Regions from separate parts of the Homo sapiens genome. Here region 2 is linked to region 1. The links come from fine-mapping of genetic effects on gene expression. Tissue or cell type: whole blood. Region 1 holds a variant in brackets; the other region holds the start of a gene. All regions are shown on one strand. Distances are from middle to middle.

Region 1 (8,233 bases):
TTTGTAATGGAAAGTCTAAGACAGCTGGGTAGCCATCAGAGAAAAGATGAAATTAAATCCATACTTCACAGCATATACAAGAATAAACTCTAAATGGACTAGGGATCTAAATGTGAAAAATAAAACCATATACGCATTCAGGGTGTAAGTGATTTCTTGGCTGAGTAAGGAAAAAGACGTGACCACAAGGCGGCAGTAGCACACAAGCTTCATTTGGGATGTGCTTTGACAGGTAAGGAGTGGCGGGAGGTAGCAAACAGCAAGAGAATATCCACAGGCTTCTACCTGTGGGTCGCTGCTCAGAAAGGGTGGAAAGGAAGAAAGACTCCCAGAGGAGAAGGGGAATCAAAGAGGGGGCTTATATGACTAAGTGACGATGCTCAGCAGCCTGGCAGCATATCTTCCAGTTAAAAAGTTCTGAAGGACAAGTCTGGCCAACATGGTGAAACTCCGCCTCTACTAAAAATACAAAAATTAGCCGGGCATGGTGGCGGGCGCCTGTAATCCCAGCTACTCGGGAGGATGAGGCAGGAGAATTGCTTATACCCGGGAAGCGGCGGTTGTATTGAGCCAAGATCGCGCCATTGCACTCCAGCCTGGGCGATAGAGTGAGACTCAGTCTCAAAAAAATAAAAATAAAATATGTAATTATCTGTTCATTCTGAGTACAGGGAAACACTGATAGGACTATCCTGAAAATAATAAGATTCAGAATCTATCGGGGATAGATGGGAAGGGCTTGAACAGAATGGTGGGATAAGAACAAAATGGAGAGGATAGGGATAGGGAAACCTCTCTGAGCATATCATTCTGTTTAGTTCTGATGTTTAAAATCACATTCTACTTTTTTTTTTTCTTTTTGACAGGGTTTCACTCTGTCACACAGGCTGGAGTGTAGTAGCGTTATCATTGCTCAGTGCAGCCTTTACTTTGTGAGCTCAAGTAATCCTCCTGCCCAAGTACCAGGGAATACATATGTACACCACCACATCCAGCTAATTTTTAAAAATATTTTGGGTAGAGAAGAGATCTCTCTATGTTGCCCAGGCTGCTCTTGAACTTCCAGTCTGTCACATATAAAGTTTTGGTGCCACAAAAGAAATAACACTTGAATATAAAATTTTCTTTTTAATTCTCAGCAAGGCAAGATACTTCTATAGAAGGGTGCACTCTCACAGATGGAGCAATGGTGGGCACACACCTGGACAAGGGAGGGAAAGGGGTTCTTATTCCTGACACACGTGGTCCCTACTGCTCTGTCGTTCCCCTACTGGCTAGGGTTGGACCTCACAGGCTAAACTAATTCCGATTGACTAATTTAAAGAGAGTGATGGAGTGAGCGGTTTGGGAAAAGGGTGCTTTATGAGGAAGTTAAGTTTAAAAGTAGAAGGCAAAGAATTGAGCATACTGACATATTAATTCTTTGAAGAGAAATTTATAATTCATTTTCAACAACTTCCTCCTCTTGCATTTTTTTTATGGCTTTCTCTTCAAACTTATTTAACATGTCTTGACTTAGTTGTTCTGCTTGATTTTCCAAAAGAAGGAGCTTCTCTGGATAAGGTGGAGGATAGTTAAAGGAGGTTTTAGTAAGTGCCATTTCTATGAGCCTCTGCACCAACCTACAGATGCATGGTATGACACGGCACCTGACAAGGATAAGTACACCCATTACGGCTACAAGGGAGGTGAGAATTGAGGCTATTATTCCTTTCCATTTACCGAACCACTTTTCTAGCCATTCTGTAAATGGGTAATTTACCCCTGAATTGCTGGCCAACTCATTGGATAGAGGAGTCAGGCCTTGCAATGCCTTTCTTATACTTCCATTAGGGGCCGTGTTGTTTGGGATGAAGTTGCAACAATGAGTTTTAATAATGATGCAAACTCCTCCTCTTTCTGCTAATACCATGTCTAAAGCTATCCTATTTTCCCAAGCCATCAGGTTAGTAGCCCCCAATTGCTCAGCTATTCCTTTAACAGCATCTCTAGTGTAGTTAATAAATCGCTGTTGGTTGTAATAGATGTAGTTTACCCAATCTACATTTTTTTTTTTTTGAGATGGAGTCTCACTCTGTCACCCAGGCTGGAATGCAGTGGTGCGATCTTGGCTCACTGCAAGCTCCGCCTCCTGGGTTCATGCCATTCTCCTACCTCAGCCTCCTGAGTAGTTGGGACTACAGGCACCTGCCACCATGCCCGGTGAATTTTTTGTATTTTTAGTAGAGACAGGGTTTCACCGCGTTACCCAGGATGGTCTCAATCTCCTGACCTTGTGATCCGCCCGCCTCGGCCTCCCAAAGTGCTGGGATTACAGGCATGAGCCATCGCGCCCGGCCCACCCAATCTACATTTTTATTAACTGTCGCCTACCAAAATATTGACTTAAATCCTGCAGCTATTGGATTTTGGGCTTTAAATTGATCTGGTATTCCCCGTGGGACTCCAATTGCATCTAAATAGCCGTGAGAGTTGAAAGACCTATAACGGGCTTGTCTTGCTTTACGAAGTCTTATCTTTCCTCCCTCTGGTTGCTGAAATGCCAGGGTGAAAGGGATAGCCAATTGGACTAAAGCACAAGTGCCACTCCAGTTATTCAGCAGAGTGTCCAGTAAAGGTCCACCACAATACCACCACACATCCGCTCAGGGATGAGCAAGGGCTGACTGATTGGTAAGCTCTTGAAAGTTCTTAAGCTCACTGCATCCCTTCAGGTCTCCAAGGAACACTAAGTTTCCTCTCTGTTGTGAGAGACACGAAGTGAACTTAATGTTGGGAGATGGAAGCTGGATGGCCCTCGGGGGCTGACCAGCATGTTGTTGAACTTCAGGATATAGCAGAGACAGAGAGTCGGCATGACTCTTTACCCTAGGCTGTAGAATCCTGGAAAAGAGTTACCATGCAGCCCATGCCCGGTCTATTGGAGAACCACCCTAGTGGAAAGGGGACAATCTGGGCCTCTGGCCTGCTGTGCGCACTAGCATAACAATTGCTTTTGTTTAACATGCGGATGGAATATTTGATCCATTCCAACCAGGTATTTACATCTTGGTATCCTGTCTCAATTGCCAAAGTTTAAGTCTTTAACTTCTACCATCGCTATCATGGCCTTGTCCTTAGATGGAGGAGGAACAATGGTTCCGTTGTGAGAGGTTTTGGAAAAAGGCTAAGAGGCAGGTGCAGGCAGCGGGAGATCAAAGAAACGCATTTCAAAGAATCCAGTAGGGTCTGTCCTTGAAACCTCAGCCCCTATACCATAAAACCGGCTTAAAGAAAGGAACTGGCTTAGAAAAGGAGAACTTTGGGGCTCAAAATACTAACCTGTATAGGGTTGCACTGGTTTGGCTGACAGTTGGGGGGGGCTGTCCCTTTAGTAAATGAATGTATGGTTTTAGGAAATTCCAAAAACTGGTTAGGGCAGTCCATCCTTGCTCTTTGGTGGTCCACAGAACGTTGGACCAACTACGGCATAAAAGCTCTACATCGGGGGTTGGGGTCAAGACTCCTGGTTTCCACTGGGATCTTTATGGAAATCTCCCAGATTAAATGGTCCTAATTCACTAATGCCCAGTCTGAGGAGAGCCAGGAGGGACAGAGGTGCTTTTCTGAAGTAGTGAGCTGCCTTTGACTTGACAAATCCCCACAGGGTATAACAAGGCAAGCATTAAATGCAACAGTTTGAGGCAAAATTGACTTGGTTATGTTAATAACTAGATGGTCAGCAACAGAGCGAGGAAAGAAGAAAGAGTAATAGAATAGATGAAAGACAGTTAAATTCTTCTTAGCTTTAGTTTGGTAGGGTTTTCCCCTGGGACTATGGCCCACCACTCTGGAGGTGGTGGCGCGTTCTTGACTCTGGTGTGATGAGTCCATCCTCTCTCTGCC[G/A]TGCGGACTGCGGTTTCAGTAGTGAGGAGCAGTAAGTAATGAGATTCCCAGGCTGGCTCAGGCTTCTCCTCTTTCCAGCTCTTGATGAGGACATGATCCCCAGGCTGATGATGCACTGGGAACTCTAAGGGTGGCACCTGTGCTAATAGACCTTTAGTTTTAAGAGAAGAGAGAATAGAAGATAGACAAAGTATATAATTTTTAAGGATTGATCTTTTGTTTCAAAGGTAGGAATATCAGCAGTGGAGTGCAAATAAGGTAATCCATAGAGCATCTCATAAGGAGAAAGACCAACGTCTTTCCGTGGTGCAGTTTGAATTCTCAGCAGGGCGATAGGAAGACACTTGGTCCATGGCAATCGAGTCTCTAAGACTAATTTGGTTAAGTGGTTCTTTAGAGTCTGATTCATTCTTTCTACTCTCCCTGATGAGGGTGGGTGCCAGGGAGTATGGTGTTCCTATTTAATGTCTAATGTTTGGGATAGCTTTTTAATAATGTGTGTGGTGAAATGAGTTCCATTGTCTGAGTCAATATTTTCTATTAGTCCAAACCTGGGTACTATATTTTCAATTAAGGCCTTAACTACATTATTGGCTGTTGCATTTGAAAAGGGGACAGCTTCAACCAAGTGAGTGAGGTAGTCTACTATCACTAGTAAATATTTTAGACGACCTATTGGAGGCATTTCTGTGTAATCAACTTGGATACTTTGGAATGGCCTTAAGCCCAGATTCCTTCCCCCGAGAGGTAATCTTTTTATAGTATGTCTATTAGTTTTCTTACATACTAAGCAACTATCTGTAACCTGTTTGGCCAGAGTATAAATTCCTATATAACTATAAACTCTGAGAACTGCATCACACATGGCCTGGGGCCCCCAGTGGGTCTCATGATGTAGTTAGGATAAGACTTCCCTCATAAGGGGTTTGGACAACATTTCTCTCTGGTCTGACAGCATCCACTTTCCTTCTGAATTCTCTTTAGCGTCTATGTTTATTAGTTTCTCTTTTTTGGTGGAAGAGAAAATGGGGATTATGGTAGGAGGAGGGAGGTAGGGAGTTAAGTGAAAAATATGCATTTCAGAAGACACAGCAGCCTGCTTGGCTACCTGATCTGCTAGGTTATTTCCTCGACTTTCAAAAGAGGTTTTTCTGTTGTCCGGGAACATGGACAATAGTTATTTTTTCCGGCAACTGAAGATTATTCAATACTTGGGTGATCAGCTCCTTGTGAACAAGGTCTTGACCTTTACTATTAATGAGAACTCGTTCAGTCCAAATTTTTCCAAATGTATGAGCCACTTCAAAGGTGTACTTAGAATCGGTATAGATAGTTCCCTCCTGGTCCTGTAAGTACTTTAAGGCTTGGCTGAGTGCAAACAGCTCACACATTTGAGCAGACCAACTGTTGGGCAATTTTTCTGACTCTATTTCTATGAGAGTTTCTCCATCAATCACTGAATACCCATTGTGTCTTTTTCCCTCAATCACCCAGGAGGAACCATCTATGAATAAGTGCCCTCCAGTCCAGAAGGGGGTTTCTCCTAGGTCTGGTCGAACCTTTCTATGGTAATCAATTAAATCTAAACATGTGTGTTCTCTCCTTAGATTTGGATTCCCTGTAGGAAACCTGCTGGGTTGAGTGAATTATCAGTGGTCAGTGTTAAACCATCCTTTTTTTTTTTTCTTTTTTTGAGACGGAGTCTCACTCTGTCACCAGGCTGGAGTGCAGTGGTGCCATCTCAACTCACTGCAACATCCAACTCCCAGGTTCAAGCGATCCTCCTGCTTCAGCCTGCCAAGTAGCTGGGACTACAGGCGTGTGCCACCACGCCCAGCTAATTTTTGTATTTTTAGTAGAGATGGGGTTTCACCATGTTGGCCAGGATGGTCTTGATCTATTGACCTTGTGATCCACCAGCCTCGGCCTCCCAAAGTGCTGGGATTACAGGCATAAGCCACCATACCCGGCCATAAATCATCTTTTTCTAACAGAATGGCCTCATACTTTAAGATTCTTGAGTCAGTAAGCCATCTCCCTGCTCTATGGTTTAAGATAGTTCTAACTTGGTGAGGCGTGCTTACTGTCAATTTTCCTCCAAAGGTTAACTTTCTGCTTTCCTTGACTACTATTGCTGTAGCTGCGATGGACTGGATGCATTGAGGCCATCCACAAGTGACTGGGTCTGAGGCTTTTGGTAGGAAGGCTACAGGCTGTCGGCAGCCTCCATGCTCTTGAGTCAGCACTCCTAAAGTTATCCCACTGTCCACATTAACAAAAAGGTGGAATGGCTTTTCCAGGGAGGGTTAGGCTAAAACAGGGGCAGTTATGAGCCTTTCCTTCAGCTTCTCAACTTGATCAACTTCCTCAGAAGTCCACAGGAGACAGTTAGGTTTCTCCTGAGCAAGTTTTTGATATAACAGTTTACTGTGCAGTGCATATGAGTCAATCCAAAAGCGGCAGTATCTAACTAATCCTAAACATTTCCTGAGTTCTTGTTTAGTTTGAGGCAAGGGTAGGGACACAATTCCCTCAATTCGTTCAGGCCCTATTCTTCACTTGTCTGCACTTATTAAGTGGCCTAAATACTTAACTTCGGGATCTACATACTGAAGCTTTCTTGTTGAGACTCGTAGCCCCTCAAACTACAGGTGATTAAGAATATGTGTAGAGAAGTCAGTTACCTTCTCTATATCTTCACCAGATATAAGAATGTTGTCCACGTACTGAAGAAGGTATATTTGTTCTGGGATGACAACTTTTTCTAGTACTTGTTCTAAACTTTGGCCAAAAAGATTAGGGGAGTCTGTGAACCCTTGGGGCAAGACTGTCCATCGATATTGTTGTTTCCACCCTGATTGGGGATCTCAGCTATCTTCAGCCAGGGGACATGCCCAAAAAGCATTCTTCAAATCTATTACAGTAAACCATTGATGATTACATGAAATCTTGTTAAGAATAGTGTAAGGATTGGGGACAACGGGGTGGGTAGTCTGGACTATTTGGTTGATAGCTCTACAGTCCTGTACTAGCCGATATGACCCATCTGATTTCTTGACTGGCAGTATTGGGGTGTTTTAAGGAGACATACAGGGCTGGAGAAGCCCGTCCTTAATAAGGCCTTTGATTATAGGTTTCAACCTTATCCTGCCTTCTAGGGGAATAGGGTATTGTTTCCTTCTTACTACTTCTCCTGGGGTTTTTAGCTGATGTGGATTGGAGGGACTTGGAGTTTCCCTTAGTCTCCTTCTTTGGACCAGACATTAGGATTAATATATTTTTCATCCGCAGTGGTGAGTAGGTTTAATGGGGTGAAGAATTCTCTTGGGCTGACTTGTAGACCTATGCCCAACTTTAACATTAAATCCCTCCCCAGGAAATTAGTTCCTGCTTCAGGGATTAACAAGAACTGAATATAAGCTGAGCGATCCTGGTGTCTAACTTCTGTGCTTTGTAAAATTTTTGCTCTAAATCCTTCCCCTTTTACCCTGGAAACTAAAAGTTCCTCTGAGGAGGAGCCAACATTAGATGGGGGGAAACAAACAGGAGCGAGCAGCCCCTGAATCGACTAAAAAGGCGATAAGCTCATGTTTAGGTCCCACATCCAAATTGATCAAGGGCTCCTGGTGGGACTCAAGATAAAAGAGACAGGGCCCCTGACCCCCCTATTCCTTGAAAGTCATGAGTGGAAGGGCTTCTTTCTCCTTAGTTCAGGACATTCTCTCTTGAAGTGGCCTGTTCTTCCACATCTATAGCACATATCTTGTCCTTCCTCCCTCTTAGTTCTGGGATTCTTTAACCCTGTCCCCCCATACTCTTTAGGGGGCCTGGTAGATGAGGACCTTTGTCCTCCAGATGGAGGCTGGGGGCCTTTAAAACAGGGTTCAGACCCTTTATACTTTCTAGGTCCCTGGAAGCTCTGTCTAGAAGTACCTGGGTTTGGAGCCATCTGTTGGAAGGTGGAAAACATAAGTTTTGTTTTTTGTTTCTGTTTTTCTTCATCCCGTTTCACATGTACTTTCTAAGCTTCCCTGAGAAGCTCACTTAGAGGACGGTCTTCCCAATTGTCTATTTTTTATAACTTTTTTGAAATGTCTAGGCAACTTTTACTGACAAATTGGAGTTTCAACATTCCTTGCCCAAGGAGATCATCCAAAGTAAGGCCTGCATATTGCCTCATTTGCTCCCTCAGTCTGTCTAGGAATCTCACAGTCCCTTCATCCTTTTCCTGTTGTATATCAAGCGCTTTAGAAAGATTGCGGGTTCAGGGTACTGATTCCTGATTTCCTTTTATTATCATCTCCCTTAGGTCCTGCATATTTTCCCGGTGATCTGCGTTGTTATTGTC
Region 2 (8,233 bases), 230 kb before region 1:
ACCCTGGAGACCGGTTAAGTCTAGGAGAAATAATATCAAGATTTAGACTGATCTTTTTTTCCCCAATCTCTTTGCCTCTGAGTAACCATTCTTCAAATTCAGAACCACACTCAGGGTAAAATATAAGTAAGGGCTATTTATTTTTTTGCCACTGTTTTGGCATCTGTAGACAATACAGTTTATTTAATTTCAGGTTTTCACAGTTATGTACAGTCATACCTCGGAGATATGTGAGTTCGCTTCCACAGACCATCATAGTAAAGTGAGTCATACAAATTTTTTGGTTTCCTAGTGCATATAAAAGTTACGTTGGCTGGGTGAGGTGGCTGTCACCTGTAATCCCAGTGCTTTGAGAAGCTGAGGTAGGAGGATCACTTGAGTCTAGGAGTTTGAGACCAGCCTGGGCAACTATAGCAAGACCCCATCTCTACAAAAAAAATGTTTTACATCAGTCAGGTGTGGTGGAGTAGCTGTAGTTCTAGCTATTCAGGAGGCTGAGGCAGGTGGATTGCTTGAGCCCAGGAGTTCAAGGCTGCAATAAGCTATGATTGTGCCACTGCATTCCAGCCTGGGTGACAGAGTAATACCCTGTCTCAAAAAAAAAAAAAAAAAAAAAAAAAAATGCTGAGCGTGGTGGTTCATGCCTATAATCCCAGCACTTTGGGAGGCCGAGGTGGGTGGTGGATCACCTGAGGTCAAGAGTTCAAGACCAGCCTGTCCAACATGGTGAAACCCCATTCTCTACTAAAAATGTAAAAATTAGCCAGGTGTGGTGGAGCACACCTACAATCCCAGCTACTTGGGAGGCTGAGGCAGGAGAATCACTTGAACGCAGGAGGTGGAGGCTGCAGTGAGTTGAGATTGTGCCATGGCACTCCAGCCTAGGCAACAGAGCAATACTGCATCTTAAAAAAAAAAAAAAAATTATAGTCTATTGTGTGCAGTAGCATTATGTCTAAAAAACAAAGGATGCACCTTAATTGTAAAATACTTTGCTTAAAAATTCTGACAGAGAAACAAAGTGAGTATGTGTTATTGGAAAAATGGTGCTAGTAGACTTCATCAGTGGCCACAAACCTTCAATTTGTAATAACCTTCAATTTGTAATAAAAATAAAACCCCACACGTTATCTGCAAAGCACAATAAAATGAAGTATGTTACATGTTGATTTTCAGGAATTAGAAGAAAATGAGAGTATTGTTGTCATCGGAAATAAGAGGATTGTTTTGCCAAGCTACTGAAAAAAAAAAAAACTTTCATTCCTTTGTCAACTGCAAGAATGGTAATATTTGACAAGAAAAACCCAACTTGTCAAATACTACGATTCTTGCAGTTGACAAAGGAATGAAAAGTTAATAGCATATGTGAGGCTGGACACGGTGGCTCACACCTGTAATCCCAACACTTTGGGAGGCCAAGACGGGTGGATCACCTGAGGTCAGGAGTTCGAGGCCAACCTGACCAATGTGGCAAAAGCCCATCTCTACTAAAAATACAAAAATTAGCCAGGCATGGTGGCAGGCACCTATAATCCCAGCTACTGGGGAGGCTGAGACATGAGAACAGGTTGAACCCGGGAGGCGGAGGTTGCAGTGAGCTGAGATTGCGCCACTGCATTCCAGCCTGGGCAACAGAGGGTGACTCCGTCTCAGAAAAAAAAAAAAAGTATATATGAGCATTTAACAAGGCTATAGGTTTTGATTTTGAGCCCTGAAAACCCCCAGGTTTAGTTTCATTGGGAATTTGTATTCAAACATGTCTCTGCTCTGGATCCATAGGTGGCACAATTTTGCCAGTTTTTGATGCATAAATGGTGACAGTATCCTTTAACAAAATTCCTAAAGTAGTCTTTTAAAAAAATAATTCTGAAAATCTGGCCAATGATAATACAGGACTCGGAAGAAAATACTACCCATTGAAATTGGAAAGCCTGTTTTCAATTTGGGGTCTGCTTTTTTTTTTTTTAATTGCTTTAAGAGATTAAGGATTTTAGACACAAACACGTCATAAAGTGTTTTTAGATTTGCATGAACCTACTGTGGTTTAGTATAAATAAACCCCTAACATGAGTGTTACAGATGCCTGTGAGGGTATCTTGGGGGTTTCTACACTGCCTACCCCAAACCTGACTGCAGTCAGAGCCAACAGGGCCCCACGTAGGCAAAGGCTATGTCATTAATTCTCAAATGAGATTCGTCCAAGCGGGAAATGCACATCTAGTGCAGTAGTTTTAGGCCAGCCTTTTTCAGAGCCTCAGGCTCTGCCTGTCACCTTGAAGACATCCATGTGGGTCCCCTCAGGGCTTCTCTTTGCCATAAAAATAAAATGATTGCTCCCACCAATGTTTGCGTCCATGGGAGAGGAGGTAGGAGCAGCAGTACTTGTCCTGTGTGTGGGAGACACTTGAAGGGCTCAGTGGGAATTGTCAGCAGCAGGGAACAGAACAGGTGGTGAGAAGAGTCATTCCACTGAGTTTCTGGGCCTTTGACTCCCTGAAACTTCCTTCTCCTCTATCCAACCTCCCTCTCCAGAAAAAAAAAAAAATAATTTAAAAATGGAATCAGTGTAATCAGTGAAGTAGCTGTATTCCAGTGAACAAGCAGCCTGCCCTTGCATCTGCATGCATGCAGCCTTGGCGTTTTCTCTAGAAAAAAGAGAGGTTCTACCTCGTGCATGAATACAGGTGGAGGCCAAGACCAGCATTAACAAAGGCTGTGTGTTTGCCATGGAGCTCAGGAGGGCTAACAGTCATTTTACTTCTGCCTCCGACCATCACACTTTGTCCCCAGAACAAAGCCAAGAGTCCTTGGTCAATGAAAGTGTGTAAATATCCTCACACTTCCCCTAGTAGTTCCTTTTTAGGCTGTAATCATGTGCTAAAGAAAAGAACCTAACTTCTTAAAATCTTTCCCTTTTTGGATGTAGATTGAAATTTTTGTTTTAAACACAATGGCCCTAATGTCTAAATCTAATGTTAGTAATTAATCCCTAGTGCTTTAAGGATCTTCTGTTTATAGGCAGTTATTTTATGGAGCTGGTCTCTGTGAGAGGCACAGACTGCCAGGAGGGGTTGAGATTTCCTTTAACCAGGATTCTTAGTTCTGAATGGCTCTAGTGAATAACATTAACAATGATTCTCTGGCCGGGCACTCACGCCGGTAATCCCAGCACTTTGGGAGGCCTAGACGGGTGGATCACTTGAGGTCAGGAGTTCAAGACCAGCCTGGCCAACATGGTGAAACCCCGTCTCTACTAAAAATACAAAAATTAGCCGGGCATGGTGGCAGCCGCCTGTAATCCCAGCTACTTGGTAGGCTGAGGCAGGAGAATTGCTTGAACCTGGGAGGCGGAGGTTGCACTGAGCCCACAGTGCGCCACTGCACTACAGTCTGGATGACAAGCAAAGCTCAATCTCAAAACAATAATTTTTAAAGTAATGATTATCTTAACCATTCTTAAATCCTTCTGTCTAGTAGGAATCTTATTCATGGGAGTGTCTGGAAAAGGGACAAAGAGCGGCTATTGAGATTTTTTTAAAGCCTGGATTTGGGATGTCTGAACAGTGAATAACTCCAAAGCCATTTAAAAATCATCTTTTTTTCTACCACCGGACTGAGCTTTTCAGTTTTAATTCCAAGGTTCCAATCATATAGATGTGAGTCAAACCCTGTTGGGCCAAACAGGATCTCCTTTGTTGGCGGATAATTTCAAGTGCTCACAGAGACCCTCCGTTTTTTTTTAAATACCTGGACTTAATTGTTTAAACTGGAGTCCGGACCAAAACATCTCTGACCTCGGGGGTCTTCCTTTGGTCAGGAAGAGGGGAGGGAGCAATTGGACCCCTTTCCCTCTGCGGCTGCAGAGTCCAATTTTCCTCTGGGGACATTTGCTTTTTCCCTTGGGGAAGACAGTACGGATTCTAGTTCTGTGGACTCTTTTACTTAGCTTTGAGACCCAAGCAAGTTAATTGGCTTGTGCCTCTTATTTTACTCTAATGCAATGAATAAAGACAGTCCCAGCCTTCGCCCTAAGGGAGCAGGAGCACCTGCGATGCCCCGTTCCCAAGTCCTCAGGGCGAATCCGCCAAATGTGCGAGCTGGGCAGCCCACCCCTTTCAGCTGCTGGCCGGAAGCGGAAGTGGGCGTCCGTCGCCTCGCCATCTCCCATAGCTGTCGCCTGCAGCTGAGAAAGGGTTGCTGTCCCAGCAGGCCAGGTCCAGGTGCGCCCCACTAGTGAGGCCGGCGGAATCGGGAGGGAAGGGGTCAAGGGCACAGTGCGCAGCCCCGGCTGCTCCAGACCTTGCCTGCAGCTTCCCGCCCCAGCCTCCGGCTATCGCGGCGTTTCTTCTCAGAGGCCGCCGGCTTTGGTTCCTCCCGGCACTGCTGGGCTTGGGGCTGCCATTCCGGGCATTGGTTCCCGGGAGGAGGCAAGTGGGTTCATGTGGTCAGAGTGCGTCGGCGGGGCCTTTTCTCCACTTTCTGTACCCTTCTCTTTAAACGTCGTCCCCAGTAGGAGACTATTTTTTCTCAAGAAAATGCTCTCTTGGACCTCACTTTCCGTTGTTAGAAGGCATATCTTGGGATGCGCGTTATTGGTTTGTGGAGATCGTCCCTTTTTTTCCCCTCTGTTATGTGGATGCACCCTAGTGCCTGATACACATTTGAGTTCCTATCTGAGTGGGCTTGTGCATGTTTTTTCGTATTTGTGGACTTAGGTCTTCAAGGTTTATTTTTGAAAGTCAAGTTGTTGGGTCAAAGCATAAATGAATGTGTAATTCCTAGGTATGACCAGATCCCCCTCTATGGGACTTGTGCTTTTTTGAGCCCTCAGGGTGTGTTTTGTATGCAGCAAGCAGCAGACCTTAGTTTTCAGTTTACCTGTAGTTTCTTTTGGATGTTTACATATTGACATATCGTTTATGAATAAGAACTTTATTCTCCCTTTATAATCCTATTACGACCCACTCCTGCCCTACAAATTTACTGCCCTGCCTACGACCTCCGAAACATTAGAAGGAGCAATCCTTGCTGCCTTCCAGGTCTCAGAAAGAAAGCTTTCAGCTTGTCACTACTTACATGTTTGCTATGTGTTTTTGATAGATTAAAGACATTCCCTTCTGTAACAGCTTTATTGACATAAAATCATATATTTCATCTCATTTAAAGTGTATAAATCAGTGGTTTTTAGTATATTGAGTTGTGCAACCATGACTACAATCTAACTCTAGAACATTTTCATTGCCCCAAAAGAGAATCCCATACTCATCAGCAGTTACTCCCCCATGGTTGGCAAGTTTTTGGGCTCTATTCTTGAGTTTTTTTATGTTGTCATACACCAGGTCAGATTGATTTAGGTAAAAACAACACTCTTCATTTAAGAATATACAGATGTTCTCCTTTTCCAGCAGTAAGTCAAGGCCTCGGCGGTTTTGGAGGACAACTGCAGCTAGAGTCAACTTGGGCCTGGAGGACTGATGAAGTTTGTGATATGACTGTGATGCTAGCAGAGAATTCATTAGAGAGACTATGGAAGGTCCTGACAGAGGTTGAAATGCCTGCTATTCCAGTACCGAGAGCAATAGTGGAGGCAGAAAGTCTTAAACTGACAAGGGAATTAGTGGAATAACTCTTTTTGTCGTGTCGGTGTCATGAGGGGAACAGGGAGCTCTTCAGTCCTATTTGCAAATTGCATTTTGAGAGTAAGGAAAACTAGTGTGCATGTGCCTGTCCAATTAGCAGGTAGACACATGTAGGTAGAGGATCCACAGAGGAAAAAGAGACCTTGTGCGAGGCAAAACTGGAGATGCAAAGTAAAAAGATGAGGAGTGCTGAAAGGGGTGTCTTGTACTTAGAATCCTAGGGATCCAGCTAGGGCGGCAGTCGTCAGAGGTTGTAATGGGGACTGATGAGGTAATTGCGTCGAGGGGGAGGTTCGATTTTCATGGTGTATGAGAAAACGTCGAGTATCTACAAGCAACCTTTCACTGTTATTTTCAGGGCTGGGTATAAGTAAGCAAGAAGAGGGCCTGGGAGAAGAGTCTGACGAGCAAGGGGAAGGTAGCCAAGGATGGAGTGAAATACAGGGTAAGTGTCTTCCTAAGCAATAATTACTGCTAATGTTTTTAAGTTTGCCACTACTGATAGAGGGCTTGTCTGTAATATGGAGCTGGAAGGCTCCAATTGTTTCAGTGATGTGTGTAGTTGGGCTTTGGAGATGAAGAGTAAAGGAACATCGAGAAGGTGAAAGTTTACCTAGGGGAATTCCAGTGGGTCTTTGCTGAGAGATACATAAAGGAGCTGCCACAGGAATAGTAGTTTGTGTTGTGAGAGGTCTAAATATGGGGGGAGTAGAGTTGATATAAGGAGGAAGGTTTTAGGTCTTTAAGAACACAGGCTAAGGGAGAAGGGGGAATGGAGGGCAGAAGCTTGCCCATAGTGAAGGAGGCAAGCCCAGAAAAAAGAGAGAGTAGAGACATGGAGAGAAGGGGTGGGGGCTTCTTGTCCTCCAGAAAAGCAGAGAAGGGGTAGAGACACAGAGAGAAGGGACCGGGGGGTTCTTGCACCCCAGAAAAGTGGAGAAGGGCTAGAGATATGGAGAGAAGGGTTCAGGGGTTCTTGACCCCCAGAAAAGCGGAGAAGGGTAGACACATGGAGAGAAGGGGGTCAGGGGGTTCTTGCCCCCAGAAAAGCAGTACTTGCCGCTAAGGGTGAAGGACCAAGGCAGGCATCCCCACGTGGTCAGACACCTCTGAAATGTGGGTGAATAATCAGGCAGGCGTCCCCGCATGATTAAACACCAAGGGAAGACTGTCTTCCCGAGTCCATGACCGGCGCCGGAGTTTTGGGTCCATGGATAAAACACGTCTCCTGTCTACGAGAAAAGGAAAGGAACTGAAATTGAGAGAAGGGAGAGATTGAAGTGTGGCGCCAAGATTGAAATGAGAAAGAGGTTGAGGGATAGTAAGAGAGGTTGGAGAAGAGAGTAAAAAGAGGCCACTTACCTGATTTAAAATTGGATTGATGTTCCTTGGCTGGTCGGTCTGAGGACCTGAGGTCATAGGTGGATCTTTCTCACAGAGCAAAGAGCAGGAGGATAGGGGATTGATCTCCCAAGGGAGGTCCCCAGATCTGAGTCACAGCACCAAATCTACCTCTGTCGCCAGGCTAGAGTGCAGTGGCGCAATCTCGGCTCACTGCAACCTCTGCCTCCCGGGTTCAAGTGATTCTCCTGCCTCAGCCTCCCAAGTAGCTAGGATTACAGGCATGCTCCACCACACCCGGCTAATTTTTGTATTTTTAGTAGAGACGTTCTTTCACCATGTTGGCCAGAGTGGTCTGGATCTCCTGACCTCGTGATGCGCCCACCTTGGCTTCCCAAAGTGCTGGGACTACAGGCGTGAGCCACCGTGCCTAGCCTCATTCCTTTTTTTAATGAGACAAGGTCTTTCTCTGTCACCCAGGCTGGAGTGCCGTGGTGCCCTCGACCTCCCTAGCTCGGCCTTCCACCTTAGCCTCCCGAGTAGGTAGGACCACAGGTGTGGGCCACCAAGCCTGGCTATTTTTTTAAATTTTTGGTAGAGATGAGATCTCACTGTGTTACCAGGCTGGTCTGAACTCCTGGGTTAATGTGATCCACCCACTACAGCCTCCCTAAGTGCTGAGGATTACAGGCATGAGTCACCATGCCTGGCCTTCATTTTCTATTGTCAAATGATAGTCCATTGTATGGATATACCACATTTTCATTTATCCGTTCATCGGTAGATAGACATTTGGGTTGTTTCTCCTTTTTGGCTAATATGAATAATGCTGCTGTGAATATTTCTCTTGGGTATATACCTAGGAGTGGAATGCCTTGTTCATGAGACGAACTTTTATGTTTAATCTTCTGGTAAAATGCTAGGCTGTTTGCCAACGTGGCAGCACCACTTCCCACTTCACTCCCCTCCACAAAAAAACAAGAGAATTTCTCCACATCCTCATCCACACTTGTCTTTTTAATTACACTCACCTTAATGTGTGAAGTGGTATCTTAATGTGGTTTTGATTTGCATTTCCCTGGTGTCTAATGATGTTCAGCATCTTTTCATGTGCAGTTGACCTTTTTATCTTTAGAAAAATGTACATTCAGATCATTTGCCCATCTTTGAATTGTGTTTTCAAAAGTCAGCTGAGGCTGGGCGTGGTGGCTCACGCCTGTAATCCCAGCACTTTGGGAGGCCCAGGCGGGCGG

The links. PIP is the estimated chance that this variant, and not a neighbour inherited with it, causes the effect.
Region 2: it holds the start of ZNF177, and the variant in region 1 is fine-mapped to the expression of ZNF177 in whole blood (TOPMed, PIP above 0.99).

Annotation. Positions count from the first base shown.
Region 1 is chr19:9,586,704-9,594,936 of GRCh38, forward strand. It overlaps LOC105376914 (a long non-coding RNA gene), which reads right to left. Exons shown (of 2, transcript XR_936311.3): 2 at 3,766-4,036. Among named protein-coding and RNA genes, the nearest start is that of ZNF121, 6.3 kb to the left of the region's middle. RefSeq lists an enhancer at 2,732-3,378. The variant G/A (reference allele first, on the strand shown) is at 3,886.
Region 2 is chr19:9,358,865-9,367,097 of GRCh38, forward strand. ZNF177 (zinc finger protein 177) reads left to right here and starts at 4,149. Exons shown (of 8, transcript NM_001172651.2): 1 at 4,149-4,220; 2 at 5,998-6,084. ZNF559-ZNF177 (ZNF559-ZNF177 readthrough) reads left to right here. Exons shown (of 13, transcript NM_001384659.1): 7 at 5,998-6,084.